Linked DNA regions of Homo sapiens: region 2 is linked to region 1. A link means that fine-mapping ties the variant in region 1 to the expression of a gene that starts in the linked region. Tissue or cell type: breast. Region 1 holds a variant in brackets; the other region holds the start of a gene. All regions are shown on one strand. Distances are between the middles of the regions.

What was found. PIP is the estimated chance that this variant, and not a neighbour inherited with it, causes the effect.
Region 2: it holds the start of LGALS4, and the variant in region 1 is fine-mapped to the expression of LGALS4 in breast (GTEx, PIP 0.97).

The regions. Positions count from the first base shown.
Region 1 is chr19:39,387,099-39,394,774 of GRCh38, reverse strand. It overlaps PAF1 (PAF1 component of Paf1/RNA polymerase II complex), which reads left to right and starts at 3,669. Exons shown (of 14, transcript NM_019088.4): 1 at 3,669-3,957; 2 at 4,486-4,515; 3 at 4,614-4,706; 4 at 5,014-5,135; 5 at 5,229-5,295; 6 at 5,392-5,493; 7 at 5,577-5,682; 8 at 5,760-5,828; 9 at 5,910-6,013; 10 at 6,099-6,215; 11 at 6,308-6,436. The coding sequence starts at 3,911. MED29 (mediator complex subunit 29) reads right to left here and starts at 3,397. Exons shown (of 4, transcript NM_017592.4): 1 at 3,137-3,397; 2 at 2,253-2,311; 3 at 1,138-1,222. The coding sequence starts at 3,352. It also overlaps a transcript of SAMD4B not described here. RefSeq lists an enhancer at 3,053-3,342 and a silencer at 4,880-5,011. The variant C/T (reference allele first, on the strand shown) is at 1,534.
Region 2 is chr19:38,810,322-38,815,074 of GRCh38, reverse strand. LGALS4 (galectin 4) reads left to right here and starts at 2,130. Exons shown (of 10, transcript NM_006149.4): 1 at 2,130-2,233; 2 at 2,556-2,644. The coding sequence starts at 2,189.

The DNA of each region.
Region 1 (7,676 bases):
CTGGCCAACATGGTGAAACCCCATCTCTACTAAAAATACAAAAATTTGCTGGGCGTGGTGGTGCGTGCCTGTAGTCCCAGCTACTCAGGAGGCTGAGGCAAGAGAATCGCTTGAACCTGGGAGGCCAAGGTTGCAGTGAGCTGAAGTCGCGCCACTGTACTCTAGCCTGGCGACAGAGTGAGACTCTGTCTCAAAAAAAAAAAAAAAAAAAAAAAAAAGGCCGGGTGCAGTGGCTCATGCTTGTAATCCTAGCACTTTAGGAGACTGAGGCGGGTGGATCACTTGAGGCCAGGAGTTCAAGACCAGCCTGGCCAAAATGGTGAAACCCCATCTCTACTAAAAATACAAAAATTAGCCAGGCGTGGTATGCCTATAGTCCCAGTTACTTGGGAGGCTGAGGCACCAGAATCGCTTGAAACTGGGAGGAGGAGATTGCAGTGAGCCTAGATCGTGCCACTGCACTCCAGCCTGGGTGATGGTGAGACTGTCCTCCCCCACACCCCCCCACCAAAAAAACCAGTCCAAAATAATGATGATACTACAGTACACATTTGCCATATGCCTGGTATCATGTTAAGCAGTTTACACGCATAATCTAAGTTTTCCTGGAAACTCCGTTTTCCTAAGGAGGAACCCAGAGGTCAGAGGTAGAGATTGATGGTGCATCTGACTCCAGAGGCTGTATTCTTAGTCACTTACCCTCCTCTCAACTCCTGCCCCTCTTCTCTTCTTTGTTTCAGACTTGGTCAGATGTGCTGTCTAGCAGTAGCCTTCCCTAAGCCACTCTCTCCCTATCCCCACCCTGGGCTTCCACACTGAGATTTCCCCATCCCAGCCCTGATCCCTCTGCCTGTGCCTCCTCAATCATAACCCTAACCACTCTGGCCTAGGCTTCTCCCATCACAGCACTGACCACTCTGAGCTGTCACTGTTTAGGGGTGTGCTTATTATTCCACTCAACTGAAAGCTCTGCAAGGGCAAGGATCAGAGCAACCCTGTGTCCTCAGTGTTGGTGGAAGCACAGGTCTGGCCCACAGGAGGTCCCCAGTTGAGTGTGAGTTGACTGACTGACTGTTTCTGAAGACCCCAGAGACTGGGACACGGCTGTTGTTACCCCGTGTCCAGAAGGCTTCTTACCAGGCACAGCTCCAGCTGGTCACAGAGTGCATAGAACTCTTCCAGGCACTTGTCAAAGCGCTGTATGGGTCCATCACTGCTCTTTCTACAGACAAGGAAAAAAGGATGTCTGAAGAATTGATTTCTAATCTTTGGGACACCAGTATCTACCCAACCAAGTGTCCATCAGGAAACCAGGTACAGGTCCAGGAGATCTGAAGTAGTGGTTGAAAACCGGAGGGGTTCAAAAAAAAAGAAAAGGAGGCTGGGCACGGTGGCTCACGCCTGTAATCCCAGCACTTTGGGAGTCCGAGGCGAGCAGATCACCTGAGGTCAGGAGTTCAAGACCAGCCTGGACAACATGGTGAAACCCCATCTCTACTAAAAATACAAAAATTAGCCAGATGTGCTGGCACG[C/T]GCCTGTAGTCCCAGCTACTTGGGAGGCCGAGGCAGGAGAATCATTTGAACCCGGGAGGCAGAGGTTGCAGTGAGCTGAGACTACACCACTGCACTCCAGCCTGGGCGACAGAGCAAGACTCTGTCTCAAAAAAAAAAAAAAAAAAAAAAAAAAAAAAAAGAAAAGAAAGAAAGAAAGAAAGAAAAGGAAAAGGCTGGGCATGATGGTTCATGCCTGTCATCCCAGCACTTTGGGAGGCCAAGGTGGAAGGACTGTTTGAACCCAGGAGTTTGAGACCAGCCTGGACAACGTGGCAAGACCCTGTCTCTACAAAACAACAACAAAAATAAAATAAAATAGGAGAAGTGATTCGTGAGGCTGAGGGGATGGCTAGAGGCCAGGAGTTTGAGACCAGCCTGGGAAACATAGCAAGACTCCGTCTCTATAAAAAAATCTTACAAATTAGCCAGGCATCTGTAGTCTGTAGCCATGTCTGTAGTCCTGGCTACTTGGGAGGCTGAGGCAAGAGGATCTCCTAACTCAGGTGTTCAAGGCTGCAATGAGCCAAGATCGTGCCACTGTAGTCCAGCCTGGGTGACAGAGGGAGACCCTGTCTCAAAAAAAAAAAAAAAAAAAAGTAAATATAGAAGGTGAGGTGGGCGGGGAGCAGGAGAAGGAAAGATGAATTTCAAAGACTGGGAAGGCAATAGAATATCCTGGTAAAGGGGGCTGCACTCACTGTCCATTGTCGATGTTAGTGTTCTGAATCAAGTTTTGGGCCGCAACCTTCATCAAGGTCTAGTCAAAACAAAAACAAAACACGTGGGAAATGGAAAAACAAAAGGGAATACCTCTGGCAGATCTACACTCTTTCTTGAGATCACTCAGTCTCAGGTTTTCTTTTCAACTGGCACCTTCCCTCCTGACTTTCCAAAGTAATATTCGTTTCCATTCCTATAGCTGTCACCACTCCATCCTCCCAGAGGCCCGCTCTCACCTGAGCTTCTCGCCAATAACCTAAGGGTCCTCCCTCACCTATCAATCAAGGGCAGAATCTCCGTATAAGCCAGTACTCTCCTCAGGCTTTAACGACCAGAGCCCAGTTTCTCCTTTAAACAACCCCTCACTCAAGCTCCGGCCAGTCCCAGCCTCAGCATCAGCGCTGATCCCATCTCTGCCGAGCTTCGCTTAGGTCTCGCAGAAAACAACAGTTTTATTTATTTATTTATTTATTTTTTTGACGGAGTCTCGCTCTGTTGCCCAGGCTGGAGTGCAATGGCACGATGTCGGCTCACTGCAACCTCCGCCTCCTGGGTTCAAGCGATTCTCCTGCCTCAGCTTCCCGAGTAGCTGTAATTACAGGCGCGCGCCACCATGCCCGGCTAATTTTTGTATTTTTAGTAGAGACGAGGTTTCACCAGGCTGGTCTTGAACTCCTGACCTCAAGTGATCCGCCCGCCTCGGCCTCCCAAAGTGCTGGGAACACAGGCGTGCACCAGCCAGGCCAAAACAGCAGGTTCTATTCCTCTTTCTGCTTAGCGCTCTCTCCGACTAACCTGGCCCTCGGCCTGCCCCTCTAGACTACCAAATCCAGTTTGCTTCTCGCTGCTTAAGGCCAATCACCTGTAGACTCTCCTTCAGCTGCGGGATGAGCATCTTATAACGCTGCACAGGATCGAAGTCCTGTTGCTGTTGCTGCAGGAGGCCGCTCTGGGCAGGGCCCACCAGTTGTGCTGGCGGTTGCGGCTGCTGCTGGGGACCCGGGCCGCCAGCCGAACTAGGACCCGATACACCAGCAGCTGAGGAAGCCGCTGAAGCTTGCTGCTGGGATGCAGCCATCTTCCTCGCGTAGACCGCCGGAAGTGCGTTACGACTGCGTCTCTCCCCGTTGCTTTTCAGCATCCCTATTTCTAGTCCCCGTTTGCTAGTTAGTCCCGCCCCCTAGGCAATTAAGCCAATGGAGGGGAAGGAGGTGCCCCAACGTTACGTCACTCTCAAATCTGCGTCCAGACTGAGATATCTCTCCACCAATCACAGAAGCACCTCTCTCCCTCGCTCCGCCCTTCACCCAGACGCTCGCCAATCCGTGTGTGGTTCCGAGCCGGACTTCATTTCCCCGAAGGCGTCGCGGCCTGAGGAGACCCGTTGGGTCCTCAGCGTCTTGGCGGCAGTTGGTGGAACCGGAGCTTCGAGTCCGTCCCCGGTGCTGCCTGCGCGTTCACCTGAGTCTCGCTGGAGCTCTTCTCGCCCGCCCACCTCATCTCAACCCACTTTCCGCGGGGAGCGGCGCCAAGCTGGGCCTTCCTCGGATCAGGCGTCCCCTGAAGTCGGCACGCCCCTCTGCGTCCCCCTTCGGTCCCGCTAGGACCCCGTCCGGGCTGCCGTCGCCTCGTCGCTATGGCGCCCACCATCCAGACCCAGGCCCAGCGGGAGGATGGCCACAGGTAGGCGCCACGCTTTTCTGTTGCAGCAAGGCGGGGGATCGGGAGAGGGTTTCTGCTGAACAACGTCACCAGCCCCCAGGTCTGCCCGTGACGTCATGAAGCGCTCACCTTTGACGAAGGGGGCGGGTTCCTTCTGAGATTCAGGTGTTCCCCTCCTCCCCGCCGTGCAGTTCAGGGATTAGGCTTTTGGAGACTCCCTCCAGAAGGGATCCCTCCAGTCAACCGTTTGGAGACCCCTCTTCCGAAGACGATTGAGTACATGGTTCTTTATTAAAGCACTTGAAGCCATCTCCTGCAAAAGGGATTGAGCACTTGGCCTTGTTCATTAAAGCTTTTGGGGGCATTTCTTCCTAAATAAATTGAACATTTGTCTCCTTCCATTAAAGCATTTGGACACTCCCCACACCACCACCCAAAGAAACCAGCATTTGTCACCCCTCCTACCTTTTGAAAGGTTGGGGAAGCCTTTTTCATTCTCCTGTCAATCCCGTCCTCTCCACCTATCACTGTTTCTTTCTTCTCCACTAGGCCCAATTCCCACCGGACTCTGCCTGAGAGGTGAGCCCCACTGTGCTTTCCCAGGAGCGGTGGGGCAGTGGGGCTGGGAGCAGAGGTGGGGCAGCGGGGGCCCACTTTTGAGCCACTAATGTTCCTAGGTCTGGAGTGGTCTGCCGAGTCAAGTACTGCAATAGCCTCCCTGATATCCCCTTCGACCCCAAGTTCATCACCTACCCCTTCGACCAGAACAGGTGAGACTAAGGAATGGGAAAACTACTCAGGTATGAGTTCCTTGAAGGCAGGGACTGCTTGTCTCGTTGGCTGCTGTCTGCTCAGGGCCTAGCACAGTACCTACCCTAGCACATAGTAGTAGCTGCTCAATTGTTAATGGAGCAAGCAGTGTCCAAGTCCCTTCCCACTGGGGAGCCAGCTTTCAGACTCTGCCATGGGGGACACTTCATTCTGAGTTCCTCCCCAGAGAAGCTCCGCCTCTGGGAAGCAGGGCTGTGAGGGGTGAAGCTGGAATCCAAACACCACAATAGGTGTTTCCCCACCCAGGTTCGTCCAGTACAAAGCCACTTCCTTGGAGAAACAGCACAAACATGACCTCCTGACTGAGCCAGACCTGGGGGTCACCATCGATCTCATCAATCCTGACACCTACCGCATCGACCCCAATGGTGTGTGGGGAGACAGGGAGGGTCTGCTCTAGGTCAGCAAAGGCTCAGGCCTGGGCCTCCCTCATGGTCCTCCTGCCCCCCGCTCTCCTCTAGTTCTTCTAGATCCAGCTGATGAGAAACTTTTGGAAGAGGAGATTCAGGCCCCCACCAGCTCCAAGAGGTGAGTGGGTAGCAAATGGGTACTGGAGACTGGCTCAGGTGGGCCCTACAAGCAGGAGGGCAGTGGGGTCCTGAGATACCTGATTTCCCACCCCAGATCCCAGCAGCACGCGAAGGTGGTGCCATGGATGCGAAAGACAGAGTACATCTCCACTGAGTTCAACCGTTATGGCATCTCCAATGAGAAGCCTGAGGTCAAGTAAGTTACTAACAGGAAGAGAGGGAAGGTGGAGATATTAGGTGTGTCCAGTGGCCCCTAAGGACCTTTTTCTTCATTCCTAGGATTGGGGTTTCTGTGAAGCAGCAGTTTACCGAGGAAGAAATATACAAAGACAGGGATAGCCAGATCACAGCCATTGAGAAGACTTTTGAGGATGCCCAGAAATCAGTAATTGAGGGACTGGGATGGGGAGAGGCAAGGGTGCGGCTGCAGAGCTCCTCCTCACCTTGTTTTTGTTCCACCAGATCTCACAGCATTACAGCAAACCCCGAGTCACACCGGTGGAGGTCATGCCTGTCTTCCCAGACTTTAAGGTCAGGCCCAAGGTGGGAGGTAGAAAGGGACAGCCTATTTGTGCCTGTTCCCATCTAACCCCAGTGCCTCCATCTCCCTAGATGTGGATCAATCCATGTGCTCAGGTGATCTTTGACTCAGACCCAGCCCCCAAGGACACGAGTGGTGCAGCTGCGTTGGAGATGATGTCTCAGGCCATGATTAGGTAGGTGGTCCTGCTGTCCACCTTGGCCTGCTCCTTGCTGCCTCTTGTCCTCACACTTCATTGCTACTCCTTTTCCCCCAACCAGGGGCATGATGGATGAGGAAGGGAACCAGTTTGTGGCCTATTTCCTGCCTGTAGAAGAGACGTTGAAGAAACGAAAGCGGGACCAGGAGGAGGAGATGGACTATGCACCAGATGATGTGTGCGTGGGTTGCGGTTAAGTTTTGGGGATTGGGAAGTTTTGGGGATTGGGATAGGGAAGAAATGGGGCTGAACCTGTGCCCTCATCTTCAGGTATGACTACAAAATTGCTCGGGAGTACAACTGGAACGTGAAGAACAAAGCTAGCAAGGGCTATGAGGAAAACTACTTCTTCATCTTCCGAGAGGGTGACGGGGTTTACTACAATGAGTTGGAAACCAGGTACTCAGCACACTCCTATCTGATTAGCCTGGATCTGTGCTTCTTAAGACCCTGGGGCATGCAAGAGCCACCTTGGAGGTCATTTGTACCTAAGAATTTGTCATATGCATTGGTAAACAAGAGCAGCAGATGTCTGGTCATGCACATGAGCTGGACTTGGTTCTAACAGGAGGAGCCAGAAAAAAAATCTTTTTTTTTGAGATGGAGTCTCGCTCTGTTGCCCAGGCCAGAGTGCAGTGGTGTGATCTCAGCCCACTGCAACCTCCGCTTCCTGGGTTCAAGTGATTCTCCTGCCTCAGCCTCCTGAGTAGCTGGCATCACAGGCGTGTGCCAGCATGGCCAGCTAATTTTTTTTGTATTTTTAATAGAGATGGGGTTTCACCATGCTGGCCAGGCTGGTCTTGAACTCCTGACCTCAGGTGATCTGCCTGCCTCGGCCTCCCAAAGTGCTGGGATTACAGGTGTGAGCCACCACGCCCAGCCAGAATATCTTAATGCAGGAGACATTTAGAGCCTTTGCGCAAGGCAGAGGGCCAAGTTTCCCAGTATTAGTAACAGACTTCATGTGAAAGTAAACATTGCCAAAGTATGGAGTAATATATAAAATTAGCATGAATGTTTTAAATGAAATGCTTAAACCCATGTTCAAAAATGTGACTCCAAAACTCTTCCCTTATGGCTCAAAGTTTACTGCTATGCCAGCACCTCTGGTGTAGAGTTGGGAAGTCTTGAGTTTCTGTTTAAAGCAGAGATTACAAGAACTGTGACCCCATAGGCCAGGCAGGAAATGTAAAAGAGCAGTGGCTGGTAGCATCTGAGTGACCTGGAGTTCTGGGCAACCATGGAGGGCACTATTCACTTCCAGCCCACTGTTGCTGTGCTGTGGGGCCAGAAATTCCTATCTTCCAAAAGCCCCAAATCCAAATGATTTGACATCTCCTGGTTTCTCAAAGTGTTGGTAACTAACTGACACATACAGTAATGCACTGCATGTTTCAGTCAACAATGGACTGCTTATGGTGGTCCCTTAAGATAGAATACCGTATCTTTACTATACCTTTTCTATGTTTAGATACACAAATACTTACTATTGTATTACAATTGCCTGCAGTATTCAGTACAGTCACATGCTGTACAACCTTGTAGCCTAGGAGCAATAGGCTACACCATTACAGCCTAGGTATGTAGTAGGCTATACTATGTACGTTTGTGTAAGAGTACTGTATGATGTTCACATGAT
Region 2 (4,753 bases), 580 kb after region 1:
AGGCTGACGCAGGTGGATTGCCTGAGCTCAGGAGTTTGCAACCAGCCTAGTCAACATGTTGAAACCCAGTCTCTACTAAAAATACAAAAATTAGCTAGGTGTGGTGGCAGGTGCCTCTAGTCCCAGCTACTCGGGAGGCTGAGGCAGGAGAATCCTTGAACCCAGGAGGTGAGTTTGCAGTGAGCTGAGATCATGCTGCTGCAGTCCAGCCTGGGTGACAGAGTGAGACTCTGTCTCAAAAAAAGAAAAAACAAAACAAAAAAGGACTTTGGGGTTTCTGGCCGGGTGCAGTGGCTCATGCCTGTAATTCCAGCACTTTGGGAGGTTGAGGCAGGTGGATCACTTGAGGTCAGGAGTTTGAGACCAGCCTGGCCAACATGGCAAAACCTGGTCTCTACTAAAAATACAAAAATTAGCCAGGCGTGGAGTAAGCCTGTAATCCCAGCTATTCAGAAGGCTGAGGCAGGAGAATCCCTTGAACCTGGGAGGTGGAGGTTGCAGTGAGCTGAGATGGTGCCACTGCACTGCAGCCTGGGTGATAGAGCAAGACTCTGTCTCAAAAATGAGCAAACAAAACTTTGGGATTTTTTATCCATATATCATCCCAATCTTCCGGATTTATGTTTGGAATGACTGCAAGAGACCAAGCATTAAGTTAATGACTTCTATATGCTATGTCCTGTTCTGAGCATTTATTATCTTAATGATCAAGGACTCTATGAAGTTGATACTATTATGATTATTATTATTATGACTATTATTGTTGCTATTTTTAGAGACGGACTCTTAGTCTGTCACCCAGGCTGGAGTGCAGTGGCATGATCATAGCTCACTGTAACCTTAACTCCTGGGTTCAAGCGATCCTCCTGCCTCAGCCTCTGAGTAGCTAGGAATACAGATGTGTGCTACCATGCCCAGCTAATTTTTATTTTATTTTTGTAGAGATGGGGGTCTCACTATGTTGCCCAGGCTGGTCTTGAACTCCTGGGCTCAAGCAGTCCTCCTGCTTCAGCTTCCCAAATTGCTGGGATTGTAGGCACAAGCCACCACACCCAGCCTAAGGTTGATACTACTCTTTTCTTTATTTATTTATTTTTCTGAGTGGCAGTTGGACCCACAGCTAGAACTTATTTGGCAGATTAATAACATACAGGCATTACTGGATCACAAATTCATTTTTAAAATATTTTGATAGCTATTCAATACTTGTTTCCTCTCTTATGAATTCCTTTTTTTTTTTTTTTTTTTTTGAAACAGAGTCTCCATCTGTCATCCAAGCTGGAGTGCAGTGGCGTGACCTTGGCTCACTGCACTCTCCTCCACTCAGGTTCAAGTGATTCTCCTGCCTCAGCCTCCAAGTAGATGGGATTATAGGCACCCACCACCATGCCTGGCTAATTTTTGTATTTTTAGTAGAGACTGGGATTTTGCCAGGCTGGTCTCGAACTCCTGCCCTCAGGTGATCCATCCACCTCGGCCAGTCAAAGTGCTGGGATTACAGGCATGAGCCACTGCACCCAGCCGATACTACTATATCCCCATTTTACAGATGAGCACATGGGCAAATTGAGGGTAAGGCACTGACCCATGATCATACAGCTGAGAAGTGGCAAAGGCAGGATTTGAACCTAGAACCTCTGGCTCCACACACTAGTAATCTAAACCACTCTCCCTACAATACAACATACGTGGTAAAGATGTGTGGTGGGCACGCAATCAACGTAGGTCCCTTCACAGTTGCTGGGAGAGGCAGGAATTTGCAGTTCCTCCGCGTTCTCCTCCTCCGCTGCCCACCTGTCCTGGGTCATTCCTGCAGCCTGCCCTGCCCTGCCTGGTCTCACCCTCCCTCTGCCAACAGAAGTCTGGGCAGGGTTTTATGGGCTCTGATAAGGCCCTGGCAGGGCCGAAGTTCATGAGCACTTCCTCTTTGCAGGAGGGCGTAGGGGAGGGGACCCAGGTGATTTGGGTCCTGGCTGGTCACCAGGGAAGCTGGCAAGGGAAGGGAGACTAGGGTGCGCTCTAGGAGAAGCCGACAGCCTGAGAGTCCCAGAAGAGGAGCCCTGTGGACCCTCCCCTGCCAGCCACTCCCTTACCCTGGGTATAAGAGCCACCACCGCCTGCCATCCGCCACCATCTCCCACTCCTGCAGCTCTTCTCACAGGACCAGCCACTAGCGCAGCCTCGAGCGATGGCCTATGTCCCCGCACCGGGCTACCAGCCCACCTACAACCCGGTGAGATGCCAGCTCAGGCCCCACTCCGCCCGCAGCTCCGTCCATAAGCCCTCACACCAATTTTCCCCACTCTGATCCTGGGGGGCCCCATCTGACTCTGTGGTCTGATTTACCCAAAGCTGACCCCGACCCTCGATTTACTCCTACCCTGACCTCAGGCTGTCTGTGTCCACGTCTAACTGTTGGCCCTCGTCATCTTCAACCTGGTCCTCCCCCATGGTTTCCTCTCTCCTGCTTAAGGGACTGGGGGGCTTTTCTGGGAGGGGTAAAGGCTGCAACAGGCAGATGGCTTGTGAGTCCCCTCACCAGGCCTCTTCTCCAGACGCTGCCTTACTACCAGCCCATCCCGGGCGGGCTCAACGTGGGAATGTCTGTTTACATCCAAGGAGTGGCCAGCGAGCACATGAAGCGGTAAGACCCTCCCCAAGCCAGGCCGGGCTGGCAGGGGACTTCCAACTGGGTGCTCTGGGCCTGGCTGTTGGGGGCTTTCTGCCCTTACCCCACCCTGGTGGAGAGGGGACTCTTTTTCTGCCCCACCCAATAGCCAGAGATGAATCTGGGGCAGATCAGGAGTGGGGACGTGGGGGCCAGAAGGTTCAGGGAGGGCTCACCGTGAGAGGCAGTCCCTGAGTTGGACATTAGACTGAAGCTGATGGGTGCAATGGCAGGAATTCAGATCACAGGCTCAGAGCCGGGTCCCCGAGTTAAAATCCCAGCTCTGCCACTCCCCAGCTCTGTGTTGGTGAAAGAGTGAAAGTGACTATACCTCTCTGTGCTTCATTTTCTTTTCTTTTCTGTTTTTGTTTTTTTTGTTTTTTTTTTTGTTTTGAGATGGAGTTTTGCTCTTGTCGCCCAGGCTGGAGTGCAATGGCATGATCTTGGCTCACTGCAACCTCTGTCTCCCAGGTTCAAGCGATTCTCCTGCCTCAGCCTCTTGAGTAGCTGGGATTACAGGCATGTGCCAGCACACTGGCTAATTTTTGTATTTTTAGTAGAGATGGGGTTTCACCATGTTGGTCAGGCTGGTCTCGAACTCCTGACCTCAAGTGATCCTCCCATCTCGGCCTCCCAAAGTGCTGGGATTACAGGCGTGAGCCACTGCGCCTGGCCCAGTCTTAGCTTTTTAAAAAGGGCCTTAACACGTTGATAATGATTGGCCTCATAGGACTTTTTTTTTCCTTAGAGATAGGGTCTTGCTCTGTTGCCCAAGCTGGAGTGCAGTGGCACAATATTATAGCTCACTTCGGCCTCCAACTCCTGGGCTAAAGTGATCCTCCTACCTCATCTTTCCAAGCAGATGGGACTACAGACATGTGCCACCATGCCCAACTAATTTAATTTTTAATTTTTATTTATTATTATTATTTGTTTTGTAGAGACAAAGTCTTGTTATGTTGCCCAGGCTGGTCTTGAACTCCTGTGCTCAAGCGATCCTCTAGCCTCGGCCTCCTAAAGTGCTGGGAGGATCAGGCACTGGTATGAGCCACTCTGCCCAGCCTGTTGTTTATTTATTTATTGTTTACTTCTTCACTGAGTGCCTATTCTGTGTCCTGGCACTAGGGATGGAGGAGTGAACAGGACAGAGACCCCTGCCCTCGTGGAGCTGATGTCCTAGTAGGGGAAACATAAAAAATAAGTCCAGGCCGGGCGCGGTAGCTCAGGCCTGTAATCCCAGCACTTTAGGAGGCCTAGGCAGGCAGATCACCTGAGATCGGGAGTTCAAGACCAGCCTGACCAAAATGGAGAAACCCTGTCTCTACTAAAAATACAAAATTACCAGGGCGTGGTGGCGCATGCCTGTAATCCCAGCTACTCAGGAGGCTGAGGCAGGAGAATCACTTGAACCTGGGAAGTGGAGGTTTCGGTGAGCCGAGATCGTGCCATTGCACTACAGCCTGGGCAACAAGAGTGAGACTCTGTCTCAAAAAAAAAAAAAAAAAAAGTCAAATATGTAAGATGTCAGATGATATTAAGTGCTATGAAGAAAATGAGGAGGGAAGGGAGATGGGGAGTGTATGTGCGGACAGAGGTTCCCTTTAAATTGTCCCCTTAAATAGGGTGGCCTGGCCGGGCATGGTGGCTTACGCCTGTAATCCCAGCACTTTGGGTGGCTAAGCCAGGCAGATCACCTGAGGTCAGGAGCTCGAGACTAGCCTGGCCAAAATGGCAAAATCGCATCTGGCTGGGCGTGGTGGCTCACGTCTGTAATCCCAGCACTTTGGGAGGCAGAGACGGGCGGATCACGAGGTCAGGAGATCGAGACCATCCTGGCTAACACAGTGAAACCCCGTCTCTACTAAAAATACAAAAAATTAGCTGGGCATGGTGGCGGGTGCCTGTAGTCCCAGCTACTCGGGAGGCTGAGGCAGGAGAATGGCGTGAAACCAGGAGGCGGAGCTTGCAGTGAGCCAAGATTGCGCCACTGCACTCCAGCCTGGGCGAAAGAGCGAGACTCCATCTCAAAAAAAAAAAAAAAAAAAAAAAAAAGGCGAAATCTCATCTCTGCTGAAAATACAAAAT